2 separate regions of the Homo sapiens genome follow, and region 2 is linked to region 1. Evidence: fine-mapped expression QTL. Tissue or cell type: tibial artery. Region 1 holds a variant in brackets; the other region holds the start of a gene. All regions are shown on one strand. Distances are from middle to middle.

Region 1 (7,985 bases):
CCTGGCAATTCATACTATAACATATAAATTAGAACTCAAACAAAAGTCCAAGAGTATTTCCTTCAGAATGGCTAGACATTCTAAAAGAGTCTTTTTTGAAATTAATGCACAAAGTAGAATCAAACAATATTAAAGTGTAAAAAGTAAAATCACAAACACCCACCTCCTAACCTCACCCACAACTCATCCCAATATGTAGAGGTAACCATTCTAACAGTTTCTCACACTGCCTTCAAAAAGCATATCAAAAAGATAGTCCACCATGATCAAGTGGGTCTCACACCAGGGATACAGGGATGGTTTGACATCCACAAGTCAATAAATCTGATACACCATATAAACAGAATTTTTAAAAAATCACATGATCATCTCAATAGATGCAGAAAAAGCATTTGACAAAATCCAGCATCCTTTTATGATTAAAACTCTAGCAAAATCAGCATAGAAGGGACATACCTTAAGGTAATAAAAGCCATCTATGACAATCCCACAGCCAACATTATACTGAACAAGGAAAAGTTGAAAGCATTCCCCCTGAGAACTGGAACAAGACACAGATGCCACTCTCACCACTTCCATTCAACATGGCACTGGAAGTCCTAGCCAGAGCAATCAGACAAGAGAAAGAAATAAAAGGCATCCAAATTGGTAATGAGGAAGTCAAACTGTCACTGTTTGCTGATTACATTATCATATACCTAGAAAACCCTAAAGACTCATCCAGAAAGGTGCTAGAACTGGTAAATGAATTCAGCAAAGCTTCACTATACAAAATTAATGTACACAAATCAGAGCTCTGCTATACACCAACAGCAACCAAACTGAGAATCATATCAAGAACTCAAACCCTTTGACAACAGCTGCAAAAAAAATAAAATAAAATACTTAGGAATATACTTAACCAAGAACGTGAAAGACCTCGACAAGAAAAATTACAAAACACTGCTGAAAGAAATCACAGATGACACAAACAAATGGAAACACATCCCATGCTCGTGGATGGGTAGAATCAATATTGTGAAAATGACCATACTGCCAAAAGCAATCTACAAATGAAATGCAATTCCCATCAAAATACCAACATCATTCTTCACGGAACTAGAACAAACAATCCTAAAACGCATATGGAACCAAAAAAGAGCATACATAGCCAAAGCAAGACTAAGCAAAATGAACAAATCTGGAGGCATCACATTACCTGACTTCAACCTATACTATAAAGCCATAGTCACAAAAACAGCATGGTACTGGTATAAAAATAGGCATGTAAACCAATGTAACAGAATAGAGAACCCAGAAATAAAGCCAAATACGTAGTCAACTGATCTTTGACAAACCAAACAAAAACATAAAGTGGGAAGGGACACCCTATTCAACAAATGGTGGTAGGATAATTGGCAAGCCACATGTAGAAGAATGGAACTAGATCCTCATCTCTCACCCTATACAAAAATCAACTCAAGATGGATCAAAGACTTAAATCTAAGACCTGAAACCATAAAAATTCTAGAAAGCAATATTGGAAAAATCCTTCTAGACAATGGCTTAGGCAAAGACTTCATGACCAAGAACCCAAAAGCAAATGCAACAAAAGAAATGATAAATAGATGAAACTTAATTAAACGAAAAAGCTTCTGCACAGCAAAAGAAATAATCATCAGGGTAAACAGACAACCCATAGAGTGGGAGAAAAAAATCTATACATCCAACAAAGGACTAATATCCAGAATCTACAAGGAACTCAAACAAATCAGCAAGAACAAAACAAACAATCCCACCAAAAAGTGGGCTAAGGACATGAATATACAATTCTCAAAAGAATATATACAAATGGCCAACGAACATAAGAAAAATGTTCAACATCATTAATTATCAGGGAAATGTAAATCAAAACCTCAATGCAACACCACCTCACTTTGCAGGAATGGCCATAATCAAAAAATCAAAAAATAATAGGTGTTGGCATGGATGTGATGAAAAGGGAACACTTTTACACTGTTGGTGGGAATGTAAACTAGTACAATCACTATGGAAAACAGTATGGAGAGTCCTTAATGAACTAAAAGTAGACCTACCACTTGATTCCGCAATCCCACTTCCGGGTATCTACCCAGAGGAAAAGTCACGCCATGGAATACTACTCAGCCATAAAAAGGAACAAAATAATGGCATTCACAGCAATCCGGATGGAATTGGAATTGGAGACCAATATTCTAAGTGAAGTAACTCAGGAATGGAAAACCAAACATTGTATGTCCTCACTCATAAGTAGGAGCTAAGCTGTGAGGACGCAAAGGCATAAGAATGATACAATAAACTTTGGTGACTTGGCGGAGGGAGGCAAGGGACAACAGACTACACACTGGGTACAATAGACTACACACTGGGTACAATGTACACTGCTTGGGTTATGGGTGCACCAAAATCTTGGTATCACCACTAAAGAACTTATTCATGTAACCAAACACCACATGTTCCCCAAAACCTATGGAAATTTAAAAAAAAAAAAAAAAAAGTAAAATCACACATACCTCCTAACCTCACCCACAACTCATCCCAATATCCAGAAGTAACAATTCTAACAGTTTCTCATGCAGCCTTCCAGAAATTTTTAAAATATACAGCACAGGAACACAAGTAAACATATACTTTAACGCAAAAAGGATAACAAAACACGTCACTTGATTTTATTTCAGACATGTTTCCATATTAGCAGATCCATATTTGACAAGTACACTGTACTCTTTTGTAGGAATAACAGTAGAGATGTATAATTTATTTACCAATACCCTAATGATGAACATTTAGTTTTCAAATTTTTTTCCAATCACAAAAATGTGCCACAATAATCATTCTTTTACTTATATCATCATGTAGAAAGCACCCTATTTCAACAGAATAGAAAGCTCTACTCATCCTAATTACCTGAGTCTTCAGAGTCAACACCTGGTCTGCCAGCTCCTCCTTCTCTTCTTTAAGCAACTTATGGATCTGATTGGACTTGATACGCTCTGACATGAGCTTGAAATTTGCATCATCCTTCTCCCGCAATTGCTGCATCAAACGGATATTTTGCTCCTGCATGTCTTCAAAGGCCTGGCCTGTGACATCCATTTCAGAGAGGAGTGCTTCTTCTTCCTAAAGGATGAAGGAAGAGATTTGATTTTAGAAGAATCTTCCAACTTCAATGGAAGAGCACAGGAAACTAAATTTTCCCACTGTTCATTTAGATATAAATTAATTTAGTGACAGAGTTTTAAGAAGTTGTGTTTTGTCACTAGGCATACAGAAGCTCTATTATCTGAAGTCACTGGCACCAATTGTTGGTCTGATACTTATTAGTTGATCTGTACTCAACGTCAGTTAAATTAGACAATAATTGTATTTACCTTAATCTAGACAAACGGATCAAGCAGCAATTGGTTAAGAGTACTTCCATCATAACCTCTCACATTTTCTCATGCTTTTCCACAATTAAAATACTGGATCTACAGGATTTCCAGCAGTTGCAAACATCTAAAGCCTTGTAACAATCTGATAGGTGAAGACTGGTATCTAATAATAGCTTTACTTTATATCTATCTCATTTTAAGTGAGACTGAGCATCTTTTCATATGGTTAAGACCACTTGTATTCTTTCCATAACCAACTCATTTCTTTTGCCTATTCTTCCACTGGATTCTTGAGTTTTTTTCCCTATTTTGGAGAGTTTTTTTTGTATCAGATAAGCCTTCTTTGTAATAA[A/G]AGTTAAAAATATTTTTTACTTTTTGTCATTTAATCTTTTGGCTTTGCTAACAGTGTTTTTTGCAGTGTAGAAGTTTTGCATCATTTTAAAAAATAACTCAAAATTATCAATTTTTTGTTCATGTTTTCTAGCCTTTTATTCATAGAAAGGTCTCCACTCCAAATTATAAAGGAATTTAATGGTTTTCTTCTAGCTTTTTGATGGATGCATTTTTTAAAATATCATATCTATGATCCATTTGGAAATCATCCTAGTGTATTCAAGTATGTATCTAACTTTTCTCTAACATTATTTTTTTTAATTTTGTCCCATCACATGTCACAGTTTTTCTTTTCCCCACTGATTTAAAACTATGTATTTAGCACATAATAAGTATCATGTGTACTTTCAACTACTTCTCAAGTTTCTATTCAGTTCTAATAGCCTGTCTAGTAGTCCCAAGCTATTTCATCTACAGAAACTTTATGTTTTAATATATGGAAGAGACCCCAGTGCTGTTCTTTTTCAATTTCTCTTGTTACTCTTGTTTACTTCTCCACATGTACTTTAAAACCAGTTCTTCTAGTACCAAAATAAACAAAAGCAAAACTTAAAAAAAGCACTTTTATGAGATCACATTATATTAATACATAAACTTAGAAAGACTGAACATTTTTAAGATAGTCATCGTATACAAGAACATAGTGTCTTTCTTTTTACTTGTTCTAGAACCTATAATAGTATAATTTCCTGATAATTACCTTAAGAGAGAGGGAAGAAAAAAAAAAGTGGCATTTACCAGATTTAAGAAAAGTCAAAATTACACTTTTTTTTTTTTTGAGATGGAGTTTTGCTCTTGTTGCCCAGGCTGGAGTGCAATGGCGCCATCTCGGCTCACTGCAACCTCCACTCCTGGGTTCCAGCAATTCTCCTGCCTCAGCCTCCCAAGTAGCTGGGATTACAGGCATGCGCCACCAAGCCCAGCTAATTTTGTTTTTTTTTTTTTTTAATAGTGATGGGGTTTCTCCATGTTGGTCAGGCTGGTCTTGAACTCCCGACTTCAGGTGATCCATCCACCTCGGCCTCCCAAAGTGCTGGGATTACAGGCATGAGCCACCGCGCCCAGCCCAAAATTACACTTGTTAACAAAAGGAATGTGTATAGGATCTAATGAAGTTCTTCTTTTCAAGGCACTTCATGATCAACTTACCATTAAACCTACTCCATCTCACTGTTATTTTGCTATTTCTTAGAAACAATGAAGGTGTACTAACAGAGAATACATATATGGTTTTTTCAAGCATTTTCAGTATCTTTATTATTGAATTTTAATAAAAATTCCCTGGCATTTAAAAATACATACATATTCATTATAAGGAGGAGAACAATCTCTATAGTTCTATGACCCCAAAATAGCCATAGTTAACATACTGCTTAATCAATGTTATTATATTGGTTAATAGATTATATCCTTATTATATATAAATCACATATTTATAAGCATAGTTTTTCTGTGTAGTATATGTACTACATAGAAATATATAATGATATATATTTATAAGCATAGTTTTCTTAGTTTCATATATTTGTAATCATAATGTATATAAAATCTTATGTCTTATTTTTCATTTTATATTCACTATAACCCTTAATTCCAGGTCAGCAAAGAAAGACTAGATCTTCAATAACTGTCTGAACAACAGCAGAGAAAGACTAGATCTTCAATAAATGTCCATTTAAATAAAAGTAAATTTCTTGCCTCACAAATACACAAAACAAAATAACAGAAAGATAAAAGACTTGAAGGTAAGAATTAAAACACACACACAAAAAGGAAAAATACACATTAACAATCAAAAAAAGACCAAAATAAAAAAGCAAATTTCACTGGCAATAACTTATTGTCAAGTAACATTTACTCAAAAAGTCAATTAAATAAAGAAAGTGAGTCCACCTGCTTGGCCATGGCTAGCTTCTTCTGTAGGTATTCTATCTGCTCCTCCACTGCCCGGATCTTCCTCAAGGCATCCTCATCAGCCATTTTCTTGTTCTCTTTCTTCTCTTTATCTTCCAGATCCTTGAGTCTTTGCCTTAGATCTTCCAACTATAAGAGGAAAGGAATTGCACAAAAATAAAAAGTTATAACACATTTTCAAAAATCAATTAATACTGTGCAAAGATAGAAGGTTCATAATACCAAAAGAGTCTTTACAGAATTATAGAACAAGGTACATAATATACTAAAACATTACATAACACCATCTGTTTTAACATCACTCCATTCTACTATGACATGCTTCTATAAGCAACACTTTTGAGAAGTGCACAGGTAACTTTCTTTAGAATAGTGGTTCCCATCCTTTTTTTTAGGCCTCAAAATTTTAAGAGCATAAGACATTCCTCCCAAAAGTAATGAAAAAGATTATCCCTGTAGCAATGAATTACATAGGAAAAACAAGGAATACATACTTTGGAAAGCCTACTCATAACCCCAGTAATTCAGATATATTTTACCATCCTATGGAGAGTTTTAAAATCTCTACTTCAGATGGTCTTTGAAAAGGCAGAAAATGTTGCACTTAAACACTTATTTTAAAGATAAAGAAAGAAATTATATCGTTGGCAAGTATAAAGGAAAATCCCACAAATGAAGATTTTAACCAGAAGGACAGGTAATAGCAGACTAGAATACCTCTGCCTTAGACTTCTTCTCAGCTGCCATCAGCTGAACTTTGTCTCTCTGTTCCTTTGGGGCAGAACGGTACATATCCAGCAATAGTTTCATCTCCTTTTGGCTCTCCTGTGCCTTCCTATGACAGGCGTAGTAGAGGGAGGGGAACAATGTAATAAGAAAATAAAGGTCATCAGAGCAAGGGAATTTTGATTGAGCAGAATATTTTAAAACAGTTTCATTTTACATTTCATATCACACCTAAAAGATAAAATTTTGCACAGACTATCAAAAGACTTTTGGATATGCTTAGAAAGTACAGAAAAGTAAGCTGTATAAAAATGAATCATTTCTCCCTTCAAAGTCCTCTAACAAAGTTATAAAACAGACATTTGTGTACTTGTTATATAGGCAAATTTCTGTGGCCCCCAACCCTGGGTAACTGAGATTCAGTAGGTCTGGGGATGGAGTTCAAAAATTTAAACAAGTGATTTAAACAAGTCACTCAGATGATTCTGATACCACACCAGAAAAAAAAAAAATTGCCTTAAAGAGTTCAAGAGGGAGAAATAAAAGGGAAAAATTTGAAAGTCTGAGATATACTGTTAATCCTAGATTTGACAGCTGAGTGATTAACCATCAGCCAAAGACTAAAACTTCACCTCTTATTAAATTACTAAACCTCTTAACTATACTTTTATATACCAAAAGAGTTCAAGCATTTTGAGCACAGTGGTCTCTCAAGTCCAAACATCAACAAAGGATCAACCATAGAAAGTAAGGAGCAAGAAGTAAGCCGTTCTGCCAGAGAAGTTATTGGTTATACAGGAGAAGGGCCAATGCATAAGGTTATGACACAGAAAAATTCAACAAGTTAAAGGTCTATCTTAGTGTGTCAATGTGTATAGGAGTAAATCTCCTAAGAAAGATATGGCATATTCACAAACCAGTTAACTCTCAGGCAAATAGATCAGATATTGTTCAAGTTACAGTGATATATAAATACTCCACTTAATATCATTTAAATTACAATTAACGCCAGCAATCTGCTCAAATCCAGTGAAGAGCAGTAGTTAATTCCCAATAATTCTCAGAAGTATTACCTCAATCATGACATCCTTTTCCTTAATTTGGATTCATAAAAATAAGGCTACCATCATCGGTTTGCTGATACTCGATCACTGAACCAAAGTACTAAATAGCCATGCAAGCCATTTTGGCTGTGCACTTGAACACGACTTGAAACCAAATTAATTGTACAATCTAAAACATTAAAACGATCAGACAAGCCATGCCATCAACCAAACATTTCATGCATGATGTCTTAATCTTAGCTTTTCAGTCGAAACTGTTACTCTAAATGTGGTTCTTACTTGAGTTCAATCTTCAATTGTTTGATAATTTCTGCTTCCTTTTTCCGTCCATCATCATGTTTGCCTTTCTCTTTATCCTTAGCAGAATCTCTCTCTTTTTCTGACTCTTTTAGCTTCTGCTTCTCTCGTTCTCTCTCCTTCTCCTTCTCCCGTTCTCTTTCTCGTTCCCTCTCCTTCTCCCTCCTTTCTCGTTCTCGTTCTTCTTCATCCCGTTTAG
Region 2 (5,000 bases), 22 kb after region 1:
TATCCCTGTCAACAGCACATACCCCACTCTAAACAGTCTATTCCCTTGTCAGTGCTACCCTACAAACTAAAGTCTAGGGGCTGTCTTCAGTGTAAAGGATAGTGTCTGGCAAATAACAAATACTCAACAAATATTTATATATTGAGTGAATAAATGCCTTTGGAATGCATGATGCAAGGCAGTGCTAAAACAAAAATCACTTCCTGCCAGCAATATTAAGTACCAGAACCTCAGGCAGCCTCAGAAATGACACTTCATCAACAACTCACTATGAATGTTCCTATTATTCTGACTCAAAAAAAAAAATCAGCCTCTCTAAAATAAACCTCAGCCTCAAAATCAAATAAGCAATAGATGTGGTTTTGCAAGCCATACAAATGTAAAGCATTTTACAAAATGTAAAACATTTTAATATCACATCCCCATGTCTGATTTTCAAAAAAGCAAAATCTTGACGTAGATCAAAACCTGTAAACTTCTGATGTCTAACAGATATATAACATTACTATGAGATTTTGGTATATAATACTCATTTTGTCAGCTCCATAAGAGCAAGGATAATATCTATGTTATGCACCATTATATTATCTAGCCCAATATTAGCTATGAATGCCTCCCATTTATTGACTATTTACTATATTAAATGCAAAGTGTTAGCCCTTAACAGGGACTCTTATTTTATATGCATAAAAATCTAATGTAGCAGGTACTCTAATTACATTTTACAGACAAGAAAACAGGCAAAGGAAGGATAACACAAGGTCAGCCAGCTAGGAAGTGGTACAGCTCAGAGTCAACTCCAGGCAATCTGGTCTCAGACTCTCACTCTTCACCATACTCTCAATGATTGCTAAACTGTCTCTTAGAATCTGGTACTGACTTTTTCAGTGAATGAAAAATAAATGTGTATCTTCCCACTGCTAAATACCTATAGTTAATGTTGTATCAGGCACCACCTTCCCAGATTCTCGAAAGAATATAAGTACACCTTGAAAACAAAGAACAACTATCAATCTACCTCTCCTCTAGAACTGACTACCACATCATTTTACCTACTTTCAGCCTGTTTTATTTCCCTCTTCTTTTCAAATAGCTTCCCCATACTCCAGAAAGCTTCCATGAATTTTTAGTTTCAAGTTGCAACTGACAGAAGACAAGCACACTTTCATGGCACTGTTTCCTCATACCGTTGAAGAGACACCTCCTAGCTTAATTGTTTCCACTGTGGTCCCTGAATCTTCAACAGCTGCCTTCTTCTCAGGAGGCATGGAGGTGCCAGGTTCTCCAGCTGCTCTTTTATTTCCAATTCCTGACATTTTGGCAGAAGAAGACAGTCGTTTTCCTGATAGAAAAAAAGGCAGAAACTGACATAATATATGTAAGCAAAGCAACAATAGAGTAAAACAATAGAGTAAAAACTAGCAACTTTTCTGGCCAACCCTTTAACCTGGATCCATTAATTCCACAACCATCTCCATATTTCTCTTTGAGGAAAAAAAAAAAAAATTAAATTGTAGAGTAAAAGTCAAGGCGGGCCGGGCGCGGTGGCTCATGTCTGTAATCCCAGCACTTTGGGAGGCCGAGGCGGGCGGATCAAGAGGTCAGAAGATCGAGACCATCCTGCCTAACACGGTGAAACCCCGTCTCTACTAAAAATACAAAAAATTAGCCAGGCGTGGTGGCGGGCGCCGGTAGTCCCAGCTACTCGGGAGGCTAAGGCAGGAGAATCACTTGAACCCGGGAGGCGGAGCTTGCAGTGAGCCGAGATCGCACCACAGCACTCCAGCCTGGGCAACAGAGCGGGACTCCGTCTCAAAAAAAAAAAAAAAAGAAAGTCAAGGCTAAATTTACATGACTATAAATTTCTAAATAGGATGGTGATAAGAATGGTGATAAGAAATGAGACAATGGGCAAAGGGTGAAGAGACCAAAAATAAAGTTCTGGAATCTCTCTTCCTGTAATGCCAAAATCAGAAAAGGGCAGTTTGATTATGCCAGAAGTTAATACTACAGTGTTGAAAGAATCACAGAGCTGAAAGAGATCTGTGAAATGCCTACTAAAGTCATTAGTACTAGACAAGTCAGTTATCATCTCTAAGCCTCAGTTTCCTAACCCAGGAATAAATAACCACAGTATATACTTCCTATGCTTATTATAAAATAAAATGGATGATATAATTATAGAAAGAATTTGGCACAAAGCCGAACACAAAGTAAGCACTCAGAAACCCCAGCTCTTCTTTAACGTTTGCAGTGTTTTCCCTATTTCCAAACGCTCTCTCCACTGTTTTATGCAACCCTACGTTAGTTAGACCTGGGTGCGAATTTCAGTTCTGCCTGTTAGAGGCCGTGTTGCTTTGAAACAGTGAATTCGCCAAGAGCTTCAGTTTCCTCAACTGCACAATATTAACGAATATATTTTTCGTCTGCCCTGCCTACCTCCCAGGGTGCTCAAAGGAGGCGGAATGGATGCTAAAGCACTTTGGCTACTTCAGGAAACAACGCAGCCATCACCGAGACTAACAAGACTACTCTGCTTCCAATTCAAGCTCCAGGAGAGGACTATCGCTGGCAACAACCTCAGTAGGACCTCGCCTGGAGAGAGAAGACACAGAAGCAGAACAAGGCTGCAATCCAACTCGCTAAAAGCCAAAGACCTCAGCCTCAGCGTGGATAATTGCAGGCCCAGGAGACTGACGGCCCCAAAACTGGAGAGGGTGGAGACTCCTGAGGCCTGGCACAGTCCTGTTGGGCCCTAAGCGTGATCTAACCTAAGTTCTTTGAACTGGCGCCGCGCGGGAACAGAACTCGCAGCAGTTACTCACCAAGGCCCGTGCAGAGATTCCAGCTCTCACCCCTGACCCGCGGCGGAGACAAGGCAGAACTTCCGGGAGGCGGGGCCACGGAGAGGAAAAAGGGAAAGAAAAAAGGAAGTGGCTTCAACCCAGCCCATAGGACTATGAGACCCCGCCGGGCGGAAGTGACGTACGGAGAGGGCACGAGAAGCTTGAGCAAGCGCCGCCTCCCTAGCAACGCTGGGCAAGCGCGGGACCCTCTCCTGGCTACGACCTCTAAGAGTACTCGGGCCTCGCTGATGCCTGACGGAGAGCCCTTGGCTTTTGTTGACTTGTTGACCTTTGCTACTGCGATCTGGTCTTTCTGCGGGGATAAAGTTCCTCATTCTGTTGCTTGTCATTGGGGTTGCCATCACTCGTTCAGACGGCCGATTGGCTGACGGTCCCGTCAATCTCCGGGGACATGACTAGCCTCAGACACCTCAGAAAATTGTTCGTTGGTACCCCTACGTGCTGAAATGAAGAGTTCTGGAGAGAATCTGAGGGATTTGAGGAATTTCAGATGTTGGGGATTTTTTCCCCCGCACAGGGAGCGGTATTCTGCCCTGTCTACACATTAGAATCACTTGGCCTGGACAAAAGCTTTTTTAAAAAAGCGTTCCCCTCATCTCCTCCCCCCAAACCCCGCATTTCCATCCACTAGATTCTAATGCGTAAGCAGGAGTGACAACTACTGCCCTTGTGCTTTTTTGGGAACAAGAAATTGTCCAGGGAAAAGATAAACGCCAATCAGTCTCTGATCTCAGTACTAGTCTATTTTAAGCTAATTAAGCATTGATTTTTTTTTTTAAGTTTATGACAAACTGCTATTTTCCATTCAGTTAAACTAAATGCGTTTTAATGATAGGACGGTAATTAATCTAACCTATTAATGAAAAGCTGTATGTCTCGCAGAACTATGATAAACTACCTAATGACGTCAGCTAAGGGTCTAGAAATGGAAGAATGATCGCTATATCTTTTTTAAAAAATAGAATTTAGGCATCTTGGGAAAAAAAGAAGCTAATCTACACTGGATTTCTGTTAGTGTGAAGACTTTTGTCCCTGTACCTGCTAGGGCTTACCTGTAAATGAAGTAAGATGGTCAACACCAGGGAAACAAGTGTTCCTGGTGCCTGGCAGTGGAACACCTTGACTATCTTGGAAAGAATTAACTGGCCCCAAGTGGACTTCACATTTCATTCCGTGAAGTGGGAGCCTGAGAACATGTGAGTGGGGACACACCTGCCGAAAAGCATTGTATGAGACAATGACACTCATTCTCTCATCTTCTTTGGTTCCTCTACTCTTAGCAAGCCTTTCATTCATAGAACTACTGAATGGCAAGTAATGGTTTTTCTAGCCCAGAAAACTAGAGGTTCACAGACTGCATTTAGCCAACAGTTATGCTTTGTTTATTTTAGACAGTATTGGCTGTCCTGCGTGGTTAAAAACAAGAACAAAAATGAACTTAGTTGCCAACATTTAAAATATGGCTATTTTACATAAAAATCCAAATTATCAGTTTCTCTAAAAAATGTTGATGATCTTGCAACAGAAGGGTTATATTTTTGCATGGTCACATTGCTTAGAGCAAAGTAGTGGCTTCTTCTTTTTTTTTTTTTTTCTTTTTTTCGAGACAGAGTCTTACTCTGTCACCCAGGCTGGAGTGCAGTGGCACAATCTCGGCTCACTGCAAACTCCACCTCACAGGTTCAAGCAATTCCCATGCCTCAGCCTCCCAAGTGGGTGGGATCACAGGCACACGCCACCACACCTGGCTAATTTTTGTATTTTTAGTAGAGATGGGGTTTCGCCATGTTGGCTAGGCCGGTCTCAAACTCCTGACCTCGGACGATCCATCCACCTCAGCCTCCCAAAGTGCTGAGATTACAGGCCTGAGCCACAGCTACTGGCAATGAGCCACCACGCTTGGCGTGGCTCTCTTTTATTAATAGATCATGTTATTCTTGTTTACCATAATCCCCACTAATCTTTACTGGTTCCTTAGCACTAGTATAGTTTAATTTGAGTATCATCACTTGTGTGTTACATTGTGATAAATCAATTGCTGGTACTACGTAAGTGTCTGGTGGACATTATTGGTGATCTACCCAACAGCTATTCCCCTTCCCTCACCTTAGCAGAACCAGGATTTTTTTCATG

What was found. PIP is the estimated chance that this variant, and not a neighbour inherited with it, causes the effect.
Region 2: RNF20 starts here. The variant in region 1 is fine-mapped to the expression of RNF20 in tibial artery (GTEx, PIP 0.94).

Annotation. Positions count from the first base shown.
Region 1 is chr9:101,552,537-101,560,521 of GRCh38, reverse strand. It overlaps RNF20 (ring finger protein 20), which reads right to left. Exons shown (of 20, transcript NM_019592.7): 13 at 7,769-7,985; 14 at 6,417-6,534; 15 at 5,679-5,828; 16 at 2,926-3,138. Among named protein-coding and RNA genes, the nearest start is that of RNF20, 23 kb to the right of the region's middle. RefSeq lists a silencer at 6,098-6,315. The variant A/G (reference allele first, on the strand shown) is at 3,745.
Region 2 is chr9:101,531,740-101,536,739 of GRCh38, reverse strand. RNF20 (ring finger protein 20) reads right to left here and starts at 2,887. Exons shown (of 20, transcript NM_019592.7): 1 at 2,826-2,887; 2 at 1,188-1,342. The coding sequence starts at 1,316. It also overlaps a transcript of PGAP4 not described here. RefSeq lists an enhancer at 3,016-3,145.